4 linked regions of the Homo sapiens genome follow. The protein of the gene in region 1 purifies or fractionates together with the protein of each later gene. This does not show direct contact. Each region holds a gene or a part of one and is shown on either strand. Other genes may lie near its edges. The genes, in order: C8orf76, IQGAP2, EPS8L2 and SLK.

The links.
Region 2: the proteins of C8orf76 (region 1) and IQGAP2 purify together in Homo sapiens (affinity purification with mass spectrometry; one large-scale study listed by BioGRID and IntAct). This does not show direct contact.
Region 3: the proteins of C8orf76 (region 1) and EPS8L2 purify together in Homo sapiens (affinity purification with mass spectrometry; one large-scale study listed by BioGRID and IntAct). This does not show direct contact.
Region 4: the proteins of C8orf76 (region 1) and SLK purify together in Homo sapiens (affinity purification with mass spectrometry; one large-scale study listed by BioGRID and IntAct). This does not show direct contact.

The regions. Positions count from the first base shown.
Region 1 is NC_000008.11:123,231,054-123,235,569, reverse strand, and holds part of C8orf76 (uncharacterized protein C8orf76), read left to right. Parts: intron 1-3,812; coding exon 3,813-4,270; intron 4,271-4,516. Other genes in the region: ZHX1-C8orf76 (zinc fingers and homeoboxes protein 1), read left to right, coding at 3,813-4,270.
Region 2 is NC_000005.10:76,671,534-76,676,049, forward strand, and holds part of IQGAP2 (ras GTPase-activating-like protein IQGAP2), read left to right. Parts: intron 1-225; coding exon 226-450; intron 451-1,915; coding exon 1,916-2,056; intron 2,057-2,418; coding exon 2,419-2,503; intron 2,504-2,943; coding exon 2,944-3,176; intron 3,177-4,516. UniProt on the Homo sapiens protein: Binds to activated CDC42 and RAC1 but does not seem to stimulate their GTPase activity. Associates with calmodulin.
Region 3 is NC_000011.10:715,778-720,293, forward strand, and holds part of EPS8L2 (epidermal growth factor receptor kinase substrate 8-like protein 2), read left to right. Parts: intron 1-4,284; coding exon 4,285-4,446; intron 4,447-4,516. UniProt on the Homo sapiens protein: Stimulates guanine exchange activity of SOS1. May play a role in membrane ruffling and remodeling of the actin cytoskeleton. In the cochlea, is required for stereocilia maintenance in adult hair cells.
Region 4 is NC_000010.11:103,973,013-103,977,528, forward strand, and holds part of SLK (STE20-like serine/threonine-protein kinase), read left to right. Parts: intron 1-4,516. UniProt on the Homo sapiens protein: Mediates apoptosis and actin stress fiber dissolution.

The sequences.
Region 1 (4,516 bases):
GTTCGCCCCTTTCTGTCGGCTTCACACATGATCTCAGCGGACCTTGCGTGTCTGCACGGCATTCTCATTTCCTGGTAAGCTGTGTTTTGTTTTGTTTTTTAAAATTTCTTCTCTACCTGAGGACCCTCGCCTTTTGTTACTAGCTCTGGCCCATATCTGTTTTTTTGTGACGGTGGTTACTGTCTTTTCACATTCTGTAGGGGGACCTGTCGCAGTATGTAACATTGAACAAAATAGACAGCAAGTCCCGGGGTGGCCATCAAGATTCGAACATTTTCTGTTCACAATTTCTGCTGAAATTCATTCACCTCTTTTCATGATTTTTGGATAAAATTTATAGTAGGACTTATTTCTTAAATAATTACAACATTTTCTTATAGTGGTTGGTATTCCTGTGTGGTAACTGTGGTAAGAAAATGGCTTTCTGGTAGTAAGTGACTCCTTTTCATTTATCCACTCAGCACTCAACAAACATTTCAGTCCTACTATTTTCCTGGTTCTGGGTTCGATGCTAAGGAGACAAACAATATATCGTGTACATGCAGTGCTCATCTAGTGTCTGGTCGGTTTAGCCAGCGCACATATACATCAGCTCTTTTTTTCTTTTTGAGATGGAGTCTTGCTCTGTTGCCCAGGCTGGAGTGCAGTGGTGCGATCTTGGCTCACTGCAGCCTCCTCCTCCCAGGTTCAAGCAATTCACCTGTCTCAGCCACCCAAGTAGCTGGGATTATAGGCATGTGTCACCACACCTGGCTACATTTTTTTTTGTTTTTTTGTTTTTGTTTTTGTTTTTTTGTTTTTTAGATGGAGTCTCGCACTGTCGCCCAGGCTGGAGTGCAGTGGCGCGATCTTGGCTCACTGCAACCTCCGCCTCCTGGGTTCAAGCGATTCACCTGTCTCAGCCACCCAAGTAGCTGGGATTAGAGGTGCCCGCCACCACATCTGGCTAATTTTTTGTATTTTAGTAGAGACGGGGTTTCATCATGTTGTCCAGTCTGGTCTCGAACTCCTGAGCTCAGGCAGTCCACCCGCCTCAGCCTCCCGAAGTACTAGGATTATAGGGATGAGCCAATGCGCCCAGCCTTTTTTGTATTTTTAATAGAGACAGGGTTTCACCATGTTGGCCAGGCTGATCTTGAACTCCTGACCTCAAGTGATCTGCCCACCTCGGCTTCCCAAAGTGCTGAGATTACAGGGGTGAGCCACCTTGCCTGGCCATATCAGCTCTTCGTAAGTACCTTTTATTCCTTGACTTTTAGTATAACTGACTGTAGCTCTCCTGCTTACCAGCCACGTTATGGCAGGCAAGTTATCTAACCTCTCTGTGACCCAGTTGCCTTATCTGTAACATAAGGAAAATTACTGAATCTATTTTAAAGCACTGTCAGGAGGATTAAATGAGGAAAACACTTAGAATAGTGCCTGGCACTGCGTAAACACTCAGTAAATGTTAACTGTCATCATCATGTTATTGTTACAGAAAGAGTTGCAGTATTCTGGAAAAATCACTCACTCATTTAAATAGATTTTTTTTTTTTTTTTGAGATGAAGTCTCGTTCTGTTGCCCAGGCTGGAGTGCAGTGGCATGATCTTGGCTCACTGCAAGCTCTGCCTCCCGGGTTCATGCCATTCTCCTGCCTCAACCTCCTGAGTAGCTAGGACTACAGGTGCCCGCCACCACACCTAGCTAATTTTTTGTATTTTTAGTAGAGATGGGGTTTCGCCATGTTAGCCAGGATGGTCTCGATCTCCTGAACTCATGATCCGCCCGCCTTGGCCTCCCAAAGTGCTGGGATTACAGATGTGAGCCACCACGCCCGGCCTAAATAGAATTTAATTTCCAGAAGGAGTTTACTAATCCACCTCTCAAAACCCTACTATTGACAGGGCGCAGTGGCTCATGCCTGTATTCCCAGCACTTTGGGAGGCCGAGGTGGGCGAAGGTCAGGAGTTCAAGACCAGCCTGGCCAACATGGTGAAACCGCATCCCTAATAACAATTTTAAAAACTCTCTTGGTGTGGTGGTGGGCACCTGTAGTCCCAGCTACTTGGGAGGTTGAGGTGGGAGGACTGCTTGAACCTGGGAGGTGGAGATTGCAGTGAGTCGAGATCACGCCACTGCACTCCAGCCTGGGCAAAAGAATGAGACTCCATCTCAAACAAACAAAACCCTGTCATCAGGATCATAGTTTGTGAGTAACAGCCTCCACCCTAACACACACTTGCTTTATCAATATCAAAATGTTTTTGAGGCTGGGCACAGTGGTTCATGCCTGTAAGCCCAGCACTTTCAGAGGCCGAAGGGGGTGGATCACTTGAGGTCAGGAGTTCGAGACCAGCCTGGCCAACATGGCAAAACCCTGTCTTTACTTTATGCAAAAATTAGCTGGGTGTGGTGGCAGGCACCCGTCATCCCAGCTACTCCGGAGGCTGAGGCAGGAGGATTGCTTGAACCAGGGAGGCAGAGGTTGCGGTGAGCTGAGATCGCACCATTGCACTCCAGCCTGGGCGACGAGAGCGAAACTCTGTCTCAAAAAAAAAAAAAGTTTTTGAACAATATAAAGCCCTATAGACTGGTTACAGAAGAAGGGTAGCATTTGTTACAGATGTAGTCTATACATGTTGTTTTCCTTATAAATGACATGATTTGACTTTAGAAAAGTCATTACTCAAACGTGATTTAACATCTGTGATGGCCGAGGAGCTGTGCTCTGTACTAGGAATTTACATTGAACAAAAGCTCTTATGGAGCTAAATGGTCTGTTGGGAAGGACAGATGCTGAACAATAGTAACAATAAAACGAGATGTGTTCTGTCTTTGGGAAGGTACAGTGTCAGCAAATCAGTCGTATGGGGCTTTATCTCCTATCTTTTCACTCAATGTGGGAATATTTAGAGCTGCCCGCAGGCCTTCACTTGCTGGTGTACAGTTTCCTGGGGCCGTACACCAGGTAGTTTTGCTCATGTTTCATGCTCAGTGTGGTTCTGTGAGGGAGCCTGATCTGGACGCTTGCAGGCCAGGCTTTCCTTAGACCTCACATCAACTTGAAGGTAATTTGAGTCTGCCATCTGCTCTCCGCAAACTTCAACTTACAAAAAGCAGGCCTGTTTTTACTAACCCAGAGGACATTTGCCATATGGCAAGTTAGGCAAGAGATGTTGGCGCTGGTTAAGGAGATTTGAAAAGGATTTTCTGATCAAAAGGAAACTAAGCAACCCCTTTTGGCCAAAAATTATAATTGACCTTGGTAATGGTTACCAGGGAAGGCATTTGGATTCAATTAGAATGCGTCATGAAGCATGGAGAGCTTCAGGGCTATCCTGTTTAAAATGTCTAAGCCAAATAAAATTTGGAAGTGGAGTTTGTTCAAATCCTCAAGGAAATTACCATTTGGATTTTTAGAAAGCCTTGAATATTACAATGGAATCATTAGGCCAGGATCTAAGAAAAGTGGCTGGGTCTTTCAGATACCTGGCTGAAGACAGTAAAGATTATAATAAAAATTGGAAATAAATGGATATTTATGTTTTTGATGCTGAACATTTGGCAGGCCACCATCTAGGAATTGTTAAGTTATTATGACATTAGGATGTTTGGGAATGGCTGGTGACTCTTTCTCTAGGTAGCATATATCTCTCTGGGTTTACGGTTTCAAACATGAGATATATTGAAATATATTTAGGTCACTCGTATAGCTACTGAAAGATACTTCTAATTTATAACATATACAACTTGGTTTTTTAGGCATTCTCATTTTATATGGAAAATGCTTTGAAGTTTAAACTTCTTAACCTTTTTTTTTTCTCCTTAGGAAAATAAAGCAACCAACACAGACCATTTAACCACGGTACTCTACCTCCAGCTTGCTATTTGTTCAAGTTTGCAGAACTTGGAGAAAACAATTTTCTGCCTGCAGAAACTGATTTCTTTGCATCCTTTTAATCCTTGGAACTGGGGCAAATTGGCAGAGGCTTACCTGAATCTGGGGCCAGCTCTTTCAGCAGCACTTGCGTCATCTCAGAAACAGCACAGTTTCACCTCAAGTGACAAAACTATCAAATCCTTCTTTCCACACTCAGGAAAAGACTGTCTTTTGTGTTTTCCTGAAACCTTGCCTGAGAGCTCTTTATTTTCTGTGGAAGCGAATAGCAGTAATAGCCAGAAAAATGAGAAAGCTCTGACAAATATCCAAAACTGTATGGCAGAAAAGAGAGAAACAGTGTTGATAGAGACTCAGCTGAAAGCATGTGCCTCTTTTATACGAACCAGGTAAGCTGAGAGTCACTTAAGCAACGCTTGGTAATCAGCTCAGAGTAAAGGCTTTATTTTCTAATTTTAAGCTTCAAAAAGTTCTAGGCTAGACATTTGGTATATATTTTTGAAATTTTCCTATGGTTGTGTTGAACGTTTGTCATTCTAGTGTGTAATACTTGGAAACAAAACTACATTTGTTTAAGAATACAACCTGTGTTAGCTGGTGTGGTAGCACATACCTGTAATCCCAGCATTTTGGGA
Region 2 (4,516 bases), on another chromosome or scaffold:
AGTAGCCCCGGGCATGTGGTGGTGCACACCTGTAGTCCCAGCTACTCAGGAAGCTGAGGCAGGAGAATCGCTTGAACCTGGGAGGTGGAGGTTGCAGTGAACCAAGATCACACCACTGCACTCCAGCCTGGGTGACAGAGCAAGACTGTCTCGGGGAAAAAAAAAAAAAAAAAAAATCTGTATCCATGGAAGCAAACCATTTTGTTTTGTCTTGGGCTTTTTTAGATCAAAAGTGGACCAGGTACAGGACATAGTTACTGGTAACCCTACAGTCATCAAGATGGTCGTCAGCTTCAATAGAGGTGCCCGGGGACAGAACACCCTGCGCCAACTCCTGGCTCCAGTGGTAAAAGAGATCATCGACGACAAGTCGCTGATTATCAACACAAACCCTGTAGAGGTGTACAAGGCTTGGGTGAACCAACTAGAAACACAGACTGGAGAGGCCAGGTAATAGAATCAGGAAGGTGTTGGTCTTCTGTTATGTTTTATGATATTTTTACATGTGTATTTATTGATACTCTTAAACTTTGTTAGGCGAACTGTACAAAGTCAGTTATCAATCCAAAATGTTACCTCCCTTTAACATATCCATGCAAATTACATCTTGATACTAAATGGTATTTTCACATTTCAGAGCCAGGTGATCCCCAATGCCACAACTTCCATAATTCTCTCCCTTGTTTATTTTCTTTGTGTATTTCTAAACCTAGACCTAGAGATGGTGTAGACTCTCTCTTCACCTGATAATACGTACTTTTCTTTACAGTTACCAGGCAAGTAACTTTAAGGTGTAAGGTTTAACAATCCAGGTTGGATTGGCTTATTCTGGGTGGGTGGTTGTAGATTTAAGCAACCCTAGCTTCTTGTTTCCTGTAAAAGGATGTCTGTGAAATAAAGTGTACACAGAGAATTATGTAATTATGTGGGTGGTTGTTACAGTACTGTTTGTAATAATAAAAAGTCAGGAAAAGTCAAAATATTTAGCTTTGAGGGATTTGTTAAATAAATGTTTGTATAGCACATAATGGAATAAGTATTTGGAATCGTGGTATAGATATACATTTGTTGGCACAGAAAAAAATGTTCAGGGTATATATTCCAGTTGGAGTTAGGTGCAATAACCCATTTTTCTGGGAAAAGAATGCTCATTACATACGCCACACAGGATCTGTATAGAATGTCGATTACACAAATTGCATTACACCCATCAATATGCGAGGCCCACAGACATACATGCACAGAGGAGATTGGACAGTTATGCACTAAGGTATGAAAATTGGTTGTCCCAAACACCGCATATTCTCACTCATAGGTGGGAATTGAACACATGGACACAGGAAGGGGAACATCACACTCTGGGGACTGTTGTGGGATTGGGGGAGGGGGGAGGGATAGCTTTAGGAGATATACCTAATGCTAAATGACGAGTTAATGGGTGCAGTACACCAGCATGGCACATGTATACATATGTAACTAACCTGCACATTGTGCACATGTACCCTAAAACTTAAAGTATAATAATAATAAAATAAAAAATAATTAATTTAAAAAAAAGAAAAGAAAATTGGTTGTCCTCTCTGGTATTGTTTTAGATTATATGTGATTTTATTTTTCTGTAATGAACATTTGCTTTTTATAATTAAAAGAAATTTAGCTGAGTCTAAATTACCTGGGTCTGCCTCTTATCTTGCCAGAAGAGACCAGAGGGAAGGCCTCAAGTCCTTCCTGTTCCAAGTTGCAGAAGGTACCCTCTGTGAAGGTGGAGCCTCCCCTCATTTAGTAAACATTTTGTTACTGGAGTCAGTGGCAAAGTCCAATTCACTATACAAAGCTTGACTATAGAACCAACTTGGCAGCAAAATTAATGCTTGTACCTAAGCCTCCAGTTAATTTAAAGCCTTTGTGTTTTCAGCAAGTTGCCTTATGATGTGACCACAGAACAAGCTCTAACATACCCAGAAGTGAAAAATAAACTGGAGGCTTCCATTGAGAACCTGAGAAGGGTCACCGACAAAGTCCTGAATTCTATCATTTCTTCCCTTGATCTACTGCCGTAAGTTGTACTTGCAGCAAGTTTAACATTCTTTCCTGGAACGTTCTTGGAATACGATGTAAAATAAGCCCCTGTAGTGAAGACAGCAGTTTTCCCTTATATTGTGTTTACTATTTTAAAAGATTGCCTACATTTACCTTTTAAATTCCTGACTGTTCTCTAAAGAAGGGGCAATACTTCAGTAGCAAACACAGCTCAGTTATTATCATCAGTGGAAGTCCTGTGATTCCATTACCATCTCATCTTATGTTTAATTTTTAGAAAAACTACTCAGCTGAAGTTGACTGGAACAATTGCTGTGTGTTTTTTCCTCACTCCGCCTTTTTTCCATTATTTTCTTTTGTCATCTGTTTTATATGTAGTTATGGATTGAGGTATATAGCCAAAGTACTGAAGAATTCGATCCATGAGAAATTCCCCGATGCAACAGAAGATGAGCTATTAAAGGTAGATTTTCAAGGGTAATCTCACCATAGCTTCTCCTGGGGGTATGAATCAAAATTACCAACATATAACTTTGTAAGATTATTCCCCATGTATGATTATTTATAATAAGCTGCAGGTCTTCTGTTTCTAATGACTCTCAAGATAATTGATTAAGCTGAGGTTAATTTGGAGATCCTAGACATTATTGAAATTCTTTGCATTAGAGCATTTTGGGGGCAATGAGCATTTTTTCATCAAAAATAACTTTGCAAATTATGCTATTAATAATGTGTGATTATATTCATTGCCTTTATTAAACTCCTTGTTAGGATTTACATCAGAAAATGATCTGCTTTCTCTTGGGAAATGTAGGAGAATATATATCTTTAAAAAAAAAAAGAAAACTAAAACTCTTGAGTTTTCTCTCTTAAAAATGGTCATGCACTTCTGCGTCACTCCAGATTGTTGGAAACCTCCTGTACTATCGGTACATGAATCCAGCCATTGTAGCTCCAGATGGCTTTGATATCATCGACATGACAGCTGGAGGTCAGATAAATTCTGACCAAAGGAGAAACTTAGGATCAGTGGCCAAGGTTCTTCAGCACGCAGCCTCCAACAAGCTGTTTGAAGGAGAAAATGAGCATCTCTCATCTATGAACAATTATTTATCAGAGACGTATCAGGAATTCAGGTGAGAGGGGCCCTTAGTTTTGGAGAAACGTGCAAGAATGGTAGGCAAGAATAATATGTGCTCTGTGCCCAGAGCTAGAGTGGGCATGGAGGACAGGAACCCCAGGTGGTTACAAGCATTTCTTCTACCAGCCACTGGGGAAAGAGGAGAGAGGGAAGTGCAGGCAAGATTGCCTCTGTCTGGCGATCCTATCGCACCCCCACCACAGCACTCCTATTACACTGAGTCTTTTCTGTGTGTATTATTTCTGCTGCTGACAAAATGGCATACTTGTTCTTCCTTGTATGCTACAGGCTTCCAGTACCTAGAATTTAAAAATCAAAATAGCAGATTTCTGCTTCTTTCAACTTAAGAAGAGAGGAATCATTTTTAAAAAGTTTTCCGGTGAGGAAGAACTTGCTTATCTACGTCAGATACATTTGACCCTTGATTAACACAGGTTTGAACTGCTCGGGTCTATTTATATATGGATTTTTTCAACCAAAGACAGAGAGAAAATACAGTATTCATGGGATGCAGAACCCACATATACAAACAGATGACTTTTCACATACATGGGTTCCACAAGGCCAATTTCAAACTTGAGTATGCACAAATTTTGGTGTGTATGGGGGTCCTGGAACCAATCCCCCAAACATACCAAGGAACGACTGTAGTAGGAAATGGAATACTTGATTTTGAAAGGTTAGGAAAACCCAGATTTTATATTTGTTGATGATTGTGTATGTGAATATGTTCTGTTCTATTCTCAAGCCTTTCTTAATGACACATGTAAGAAGATTTAATTCTATTGATTTTGTGTTTCCAAATTATATCACTAATCATTAACAAGAAAGGCATGAGTCTGGTAGTCAGATTCACTCCTCCTGGAGCTCTGAGGAAACACTTTCCTCTTGTCATGTTTGTTCTCATGTCTGCCATTTAATCAACAGGCCATAGAAGTGTAACATCAGTTTGGCCTCTTTTAATCCTCACTTGGAAACTCATTTCTCATTCCTCGGTCTCCCTTGGAGTGAGTGACTTACTAGAAAACAAAGGTAGTTCATGATTATTCATTTCTATTTAGAATTTGTGGTCTTTTGTGAGAAAATTGCCCCAAATCCTCCTACTACAGAAAGTGTTGATTTTTCAAGCTAATTTTTCATTCTCCTCACTGACTAACAAAGTAATATCCAGGCTGGGCAACATAGGGAGACCTCATCTCTACAAAAAATTTAAAAAATTATCTGGGCATAGTGGTAAGCACCTGTAGTCCCAGCTACTCAGGAGGCTGAGATGGGAGGATCACTTGAGCCTTGGAGGTCAAGGCTGCAGTGAGCCGTGTTTGTGCCACTGTACTC
Region 3 (4,516 bases), on another chromosome or scaffold:
GCCCAGCTAATTTTTTGTATTTTTAGTAGAGACGGGGTTTCACCGCGTTAGCCAGGATGGTCTCGATCTCATGACCTCACGATCCGCCTGCCTCGGCCTCCTAAAGTGCTGGGATTACAGGCATGAGCCACCGCGCCCGGCATTGATTCACTTTTCCTACCTGCTTAAGGTGAAACCTTAGATTATTTATCTTTTTTTTTTTTTTTTTTTTCTGAGATGGAGTCTCACTCTGTCACCCAGGCTGGAGTGCACTGGTGCAATCTCAGCTCACTGCAACCTCCGCCTCCTGGGTTCAAGCGATTCTCCTGCCTCAGCCTCCCAAGTAGCTGAGGTTACAGGCATGCACCACCATGCCTGGCTAATTTTTGTGTGGGGTTTTTTTTTTTTTTGAGACAGAGTCTCGCTCTGTCACCCAGGCTGGAGTGCAGTGGCACCATCTCAGCTCACAGCAAGCTCCGCCTCCCAGGTTCATGCCATTCTCCTGCTTCAGCCTCCTGAGTAGCTGGGACTACAGGCGCCCGCCACCCCGCCCGGCTAATTTTTTGTGTTTTTAGTAGAGATAGGGTTTCACCGTGTTAGCCAGGATGGTCTTGATCTCCTGACTTTGTGATCTGCCTGCCTCAGCCTCCCAAAGTGCTGGGATAATTTTTGTATTTTCAGTACAGACAAGAGTTTTGCCATGTTGGCCCAGCTGGTCTCAAACTCCTGATCTCAAGTGATCCACCCTCCTTGGCCTCCCAAAGTGCTGGGATTACAGGCGTGAGCCACCGTGCCTGGCCAGATTATTGATCTTAAGTCTTTCTTCTTTTCTAAGATATTCATGGAAAGCTCTACATTCTCCTTGCAGCACTGGTTTAGTTGTATTCCACAAATTGTGATATGTATGTTCAGAATGCTTTCTAGTTTTCTTGTGACTTCATCTTTGATGCATGGGTTATTTAGAAATATGTTGCTTTGTTTCTAAACATTTGGGGATTTTCTGGTTTTATTTTTATTATGGGTTTCTACCTTAATTCTGTTATGATCAAAAAACATATTCTGTACTGTTGCAGTCACTTGAGATTTACTGAGACTTGTTCTGTGGCCCAGCAGCCTGGTTTTTCTTGTTTGGTTGTATTGTGTGTTTCAGGTTTTACTCTGCCTCTCGCAGAGAGATGAGTGGCCTCATAGTCCCTTGCGTGTTTCTGCACACTTATTTTATTTATTTATTTATTTTTGAGACAGAGTCTCGCTCTGTTGCCCAGGCTGGAATGCAATGGCACGATCTCGGCTCACTGCAATCTCTACCTTCCGGGTTCAAGTGATTCTCTTAACTCAGCCTCCTGAGTAGCCGGGGTTACAGGCGCCCACCACCACGCCGGGCTAATTTTTGTATTTTTAGTAGAGACGGGGTATCACCGTGTTGGTCAGGCTGGTCTCGAACTCCTGACCTTGTGATCCACCTGCCTTGGCCTCCCAAAGTGCTGGGATTACAGGCATGAGCCACCGTGTCTGGCCCTGTGCCCACTGTAACCTGTTGGATCTGCCCACTTCTTTAACCTGTTGATGGACATGTAGGCTGGGTCCAGTCTTTATTATTACAAATAGTTCTGCATTGAGCAGCCTGGTACCGATGCCACATTTTGCACGTGTGCAGATTACCTGTAGTAGAATTGGGAGGGGATGGTGTGTGCAGCTTTAGAGGTGCCACTGGCCTCTCCCCAGAGAGGCTGGGCAGGTGCTGGATGAGGGCATCCTTTCTCCACATCCTAACCCATAAGTAAAACCCACAATGACTATTAGTATTGGGCAATAGAATAGGTAAAAAAACACAATTCCTGGCTGGGCGAGGTGGCTCATGCCTATAATCCCAGCACTTTGGGAGGCACAGGCAGGAGGATCGCTTCAGCCCAGGAGTTCAAGACCAGCCTGGGCAACATAGCAAGCCCTTGTCTCTAGAAAAAATAAATAGGCAGGGCACAGTGGCTCACGTCTGTAATCCCAGCACTTTGGGAGGCCGAGGCGGGCAGATCACAAGGTCAGGAGATGGAGACCATCCTGGCTAATATGGTGAAACCCCATCTCTACTAAAAATACAAAAAATTAGCCGGGCGTGGTGGCAGGCGCCTGTAGTCCCAGCTACTCGGGAGGCTGAGGCAGGAGAATGGCGTGAACCTGGGAGGCGGAGATTGCAGTGAGCCGAGATCGCGCCACTGCACTCCAGCCTGGGCAGCAGAGTGAGACTCCGTTTCAAAAAAAAGAAAAAAAAAATTGTTAACCAAAAACCAAACAGAGGCTGGGCATGGTGGCTCACGCCTGTAATCCCAGCACTTTGGGAGGCTGAGGCGGGCAGATAACCTGAAGTCAGTAGTTTGAGACCATTCTGGCCAACATGGAGAAACCTTGTCTCTACTAAAAATACAAAAATTAGTCGGGTGTGGTGGTGGGTGCCTATAATCCCACGTACTCGGGAAGCTGAAGCAGGAGTATCACTTGAACCCGGGAGGCGGAGCTTGCAGTGAGCCAAGATCACACCACTGCATTCCAGCCTGGGGGACAGAGCGAGACTGTCTCAAAAACAAAACAAAAACTAACAAACAAACAAAAAAACCCGCCAAACCGACAAAACACTAAAATAAAAGAGGCTCAGAGTTTCAAATTGTAATTCTTTCATTCAATGGTGTTGCATACAATTTTTTCTTTGAGTTTTTGCATGCTTTTTTAATTTTTTTTTTTTTTTTTAGTTTGAGACAGGGTCTCTCTCTGTTGCCCAGGCTCAGTGCAGTGGCACGAACATGGTTCACTGCAACTTTGACCTCCTGGGCTCAAGCATTCCTCCCACTTCAGCCTCCCAAGTAGCTGGGATGACAGGTGTGTACCACCACACCTGGCTAATTTTTTAATTTTTTTAATTTCTTTTTTTTTTTTTTGAGATGGAGTCTCACTCTGTCGCCCAGGCTGGAGTGCAGTGGCACGATCTTGATTCACTGCAAGCTCCGCCTCCTGGGTTCACGCCATTCTCCTGCCTCAGCCTCCCGAGTAGCTGGGACTATAGGCGCCTGCCACCACGCCTGGCTAATTTTTTGTATTTTTAGTAGAGACGGGGTTTCACCATATTAGCCAGGATGATCTCAATCTCCTGACCTTGTGATCCACCCGCCTCGGCCTCCCAAAGTGCTAGGATTACAGGCATGAGCCACTGCGCCCGATCTTTTTTTTTTTTTTTTGAGACAGAGTCTTCCTCTGTTGCCCAGCCTGGAGTGTAGTGGTGCAATCTTGGCTCACTGTAACCTCTGCCTCCTGGGTTCAAGTGATTCTCCCACCTCAGCCTCCCGAGTAGCTGGGATTACAGGCGCCCGCCACAATGCCTGGCTAATTTTTTGTATTTTTAGTAGAGACAGGGTTTCACCATGTTGGCTAGGCTGGTCTCGAACTCCTGACCTCAGGTGATCCACCCGCCTCGGCCTCCCGCAGTGCTGGGATGATAGATGTGAGCCACCGCGCCCGGCCACACAAACTTTTATGTTTTGCGTTTTGTGGTTGTCTTTGACTGTCCTGTAGTTCAAGTTAGTGTTTATCCAGCTGTGCCAGCATTGTGCACCGAACGGCCAACCCTTCGTGGGAGGGTTTTACTTAGTGAACACGGCAGCTTGGCTGGAGGAGGGGGCCTGAGCCAGGCCTGGAAAGAGGAGAGGTGAAGGGCACAGGGCAGGGGCCAGGCTGGCCGCAGATCCTCAGGGATGGACGCATCCCGCACACACTTGTCGAGGGTCCTCTGTGCACCAGGCTTTGCCCTGGACCTGGGGACACAGCTTAGCAAGTGGCAACCGGAACAGTGCCTTGGAGTAGCGAGCACGCTGGACGCACAGCACACCACGTGCAGCGCGACGTTGGGTCTGATTCAGGGAATTAGGGCAGGTCGGGATGGGGTGACGGCTGGCATTGTAGCCAGGTGGCCACAGAGGGGACGTCTGAGAAGGAAGAGAGCTGGGGAGGCTGGCAAAGCTGGTGCAGTGGGCGGGTACTGAGCCTGCACCAGGAGGTGGGCGGGTGAGGATGGTGGCGCGGGGCCGGGCAGCAGTTGGAATTCCTTTGAGGATAGTTTCAGGACACAAGCATGGCCCCTACAGATGCCTGCCAAGGCAGAATAGAGACTCCCCCCACCAAAGGCGGGGCCGGTCCCCGTTCTAGCCCCCTACCCAGGGTTGGCTGTGGCCCCTCAGCCCCTCAGGCTGTGGCCCCTGGGGGCTGGGCTTTCGACACAAGGAGGGCTCTGCCCAGCAGTGACCACCTGCCCACCCCCAGCACCTGGCCACATTCATCATGGACAAGAGCGAAGCCATCACGTCTGTGGACGACGCCATCCGGAAGCTGGTGCAGCTGAGCTCCAAGGAGAAGATCTGGACCCAGGAGATGCTGCTGCAGGTGAACGACCAGTCGCTGCGGCTGCTGGACATCGAGTCACAGGTGGGGCCCAGCGCCACGGGGGACAGGGAGCACAGTGGGTAGAGGCGGTGGCAGCCACCGGCTGCAGCCC
Region 4 (4,516 bases), on another chromosome or scaffold:
TTTTTATGAATTCTTTAACATGGTCCAATTTGTTAGTTTTTTCCTTTACAGTTGATGCTTTTTGTGTTATGTTTAAGACATTTCTTCCTAATGTGTGATCATGAAGATAATCTTCTATATTATCTTCTAAAAGCTTTATGATTTTGCTTTTCTTTAACAATTAGATCTATAATCTACCTAGAATAGATGTTTGTAAATGGTATGAGGTAGGGGTCCAGTTTCATTTTTTTCCCCATATGGATACACAATTGTCCCAGAACTATTTGCTGGGAAGAAAAATAATTCCCCACTGCTCTGCAGTGCCCTGTTATGTAGCATGTGTCTGTTTCTGCATTCTCCGTTCTCTTCATTGATCTATTTGTCTATTCCTATACCAGTATCCCACTGTCTTAATTAGGAAAGAATTAAAATAAATTTCTGCTGCTTCTTCAACATAGTTTAGTAGTATTGTTGGCCCTTAGGGCTTCTATGTACATTTTCCAGTTAGCCTGGTTGAGTGCCACAAAAAATCTGTGTTTTTTTGGAGAGATTTCATTGAATTTATAAATCAGTTTTGGAAAAATTAACCTCTCTTTGATATTGAGTCTTCCCACCTGTGCATGTTTTATCTCTGTTTAGGTCTTTTTTACTATCTTAATAATGAGTTACAGTTTTTTTCCCTAGAAGTGGGAACACAAACTACTTCAAGGATGTTTTAAATACTTTGTTTTTCCTGTTAGAATTTCCTCCTTGTTTTTGTTGTGTACAACCTTTAGTAGCCTTCTGAGAAAGGATCCATGGAAAACATATTTTTTAAGAACTTGCCTGTCTAAATATGTCTTTATTATAAGGTCACAACTTAATATATATAATTCTAGTTCAAAAGTAAGTTTTTAAAGAATTTTTAAGATTTAGAATTTGTTAGTTTTGAAGACTTTCTTCCATTCATTATCTTTTGGCTGCAAGAGTTGCTGTTGAATGTCTGATGCCATTTGGCTTCCTGGATCCTTTGCCATCTTTTTCTCTTAATAGCCTTTAGGATTTTCTTTTATCCTCTGTTCGTGGTGATGTACTTTGATATAGGTCTTTTCTTCTTCTTTCGTTTTGCTGTGCTCTTGGTTGGTCCTTTCAATCCAAAGACTTATGTCCTTCAGTTCTGTGACATTTTCTTGTATTATTTATTTGACAGCCTCCACCCACCACTTCCCCCAATAATGACTCTTGCCATGGTCTTAAGATTCTTCATGTCCCTAAATTCAGGGGACACTTACCATCTTACTTGACCTGTCATTACCATTTGAGATACTTGGCCATTCTTTCCTTTAAAAAGTTCATCTTGGCCGGGCGCGGTGGCTCACGCTTGTAATCCCAGCACTTTGGGAGGCCGAGGCGGGTGGATCACGAGGTCAGGAGATCGAGACCATCCTGGCTAACACGGTGAAACCCCGTCTCTACTAAAAATACAAAAAAAAAATTAGCCGGGCGTGATGGCGGGCGCCTGTAGTCCCAGCTACTCGGGAGGCTGAGGCAGGAGAATGGCGTGAACCCGGGAGGCGGAGCTTGCAGTGAGCCGAGATTGCGCCACTGCACTCCCGCCTGGGCCACAGAGCGAGACTCCGTCTCAAAAAAAAAAAAAAAAAAAAAAAAAAGTTCATCTTTTGGCCTTTTTTTTTTTTTGAGATGGAGTCTCGCTCTGTCGCCCAGGCTGGAGTGCAGTGGCGCGATCTCGGCTCACTGCAAGCTCTGCCTCCCGGGTTCACGCCATTCTCCTGCCTCAGCCTCCCGAGTAGGTGGGACTACAGGTGCCTGCTACCACGCCCGGCTAATTTTTTCTATTTTTTTTTTTTTTTTTTTTTTTTAGTAGAGACAGGGTTTCACCATGTTGGCCAGGATGGTCGCGATCTCTTGACCTCATGATCCACCCGCCTCGGCCTCCCAAAGTGCTGGGATTACAGGTGTGAGCCATCTCACCTGGCCCGTCTTTTGGCTTTTAAGTCACCATACTCTTGATTTTCCTTCCACCTCTGTGTCTGTTCGTCACACTCCTTTGCTGGTTCTTCCTCTTTCTGACTTTAAGGTGTGGGAATTCCACAGGGCTTGGGTATAGGCCACCTTCTCCTTTTCTTAAGAGAACCGGTCTTCTCCCATGGCTTCAATTACCATCTAAGTGCAATTTCTATCTTTACCCTAAGACCTCCCTTTTGAACTCCAGATCCACACATCCAACTGTCTATTAGAGATTTCTGCTTGGATGTCTCACAGATACCTTAAACTGCAAGTCCAAAACATGAACTAATTCAGCTCATGATGTCAGTCACAAATTTGCTCCTTCTGTCTTCCCACTCAGTAATTACCACTTCCATCTACCAGTTGCATAGGCCAGAGACCTAGAGGTCATTTTTAACACCTGTTGCTGCCTTCCCCGCCAAACCTAATTAAACACCAAGGCCTGTTAATTCTACCTACTAAATATTTCTCAAAAATACTTCTTTCTTTCTTCACTGTCATTTCACTAGTCAAAGCTGCTATCATCTCTTAGACTACTGCAGTCTTATTGGTATGTTTTTGGGCTTCATATAATCATTTACATGATTCTTTTAATCCTGTAATCATTTAATATATTCCTTTGTGTTGGGCTTCTTTTGCCAAACATTATATGAATGAGTTTCATCCATGTTGTTGCATGTAGTAGTAATTTGATCTTTTTCTTTGCTTTATGGTATTTTATGAAATATTATAGTTTATCCATTCTGTAGTATTTGGATTGTTTTCACTTTTTGTATGTTAAAAATATGATTCACGGCCCGGTGCAGGGGCTCACGCCTGTAATCCCAGCACTTTGGGATGCCAAGGTGGGAGGGTCACTTGAGCCCAGGAGTTCAAGACCAGCCTGGGCAACATAGGGAGACCCCATCTTTATTTGTTTTATTATTATTATTTTTTCTTGAGACAGAGTCTCACCTCTGTCATCCAGGCCGGAGTGCAGTGGCGCGATCAACTCCCCAGGCTCAGGTGATCCTCCCACCCCAGCCTCCCAAGTAGCTGGGACTGTAGGCACCTGCTACCATGCCCAGCTAATTTTTATATTTTTTGTAGAGACGGGATTTTGCCATGTTGCCCAGGCTGGTCTCAAATTCTTAGGCTCAAGTGATCTGCCCACCTCGGCCTCCCAAATTGCTAAGATTACAGGTGTGAGCCACCATGTCCAGCCTTAAATTTTTTAAATTAAAAACCAAAAAATACGATTCATGAATATTCTTGTGCCTTTTGGTGCACATGTGCCATTATTTCTGTTGGATATATACCGGGAAGGAATTTTCTAGGTCATAGGTTATACATATCTTCCAAAGCGGTTGTACCAATTTACACTCCCATCAGTAGGGTATGGGAGTTTTCCCAGTTGCTCTGTGTCTTCACTTACACTTGGTATTGTTATTAATATTATCTTTAATGTTTTTTGTTAGCCATTCTGTTGAGTATAAGTGGTTTTATTTACATTTTCCTGATGACTAATGAAGTTGAGTGCCTTTTTATGTGCTTATTCAATATTTGGGTATCTTTTTTTGGTGGAATTCCTGGTTATTTGCCCAATTAAAAAAAAAAAGCTCTATTTTGAGGTATAATTTATATACCACAAAATTCACCCATATAATTTTGTGAGTTTTAGTAAATCTGTATAGTTTTGCAGCCATTACTACAATCCAGCTTTGGAAGCTTTCTGTCACCCCCCGAAAGTTCTCATGTGCCTATTTTGCAGTCTGTCTCTATTCCCACACCAAGCTCAAGATAGCCCTTACTTGCTTTCGGAATGGCTCTGTAATTTTGCCTTTTCTAGAATTTTTTAATAAGTGGAAACATACAATATGTATTCTTAATATGTATGGCTTTTTGCACTTAGCACAGGGTTTCTCAGTGTTGGCACTACAGCCGTTTTGGACAGGATAATCCTTTTTTGTGGAGGGCTGTCCTATGCACTGTAGGATGCATCCCTGACCCTACCCCTTTGTGACAACCTAAAATACTTCCAGACATTGCCAAATGTCTCCTGGATGGCAAAATCAGCACCACTGGTTGAGTGTAATTTTTCAGGATTCATCTGTGTTATTCATTTGTCTATTAAAATTTTTGGTTATTTATATTTTCCTTAATGATTTGTAGGATATGAGGTCCTTTTTCCACAATGTAGATTGCTTTTCATTTATTTAATTCTTTTTCCTGATCCATAGAGGTATTTTTAAATTAGAAAATAAATTTATTAGAAAACAAAGGTTGAAAATAAACAGAATGAACAAACTCTATTTTTGCTTGCCCCAAAACCTCAATAAAAACTGTTATCTGGCCAGGTGCAGTGACTCATGCCTGTAATCCCAGCACTTTATAAGTTTGAGGCAGTAGGATTGCTTGAGCCCAGGAATTCAAGAACAGCCTGGGCAACATAGCGAGACCCCATGTCTACGGAAAGTAGTAAAAAAACTTAGCTGGGCATGATGGCACTCACCTGTGGTCACAGCTGCTGGAGAGGCTGAAGTGGGAGGAT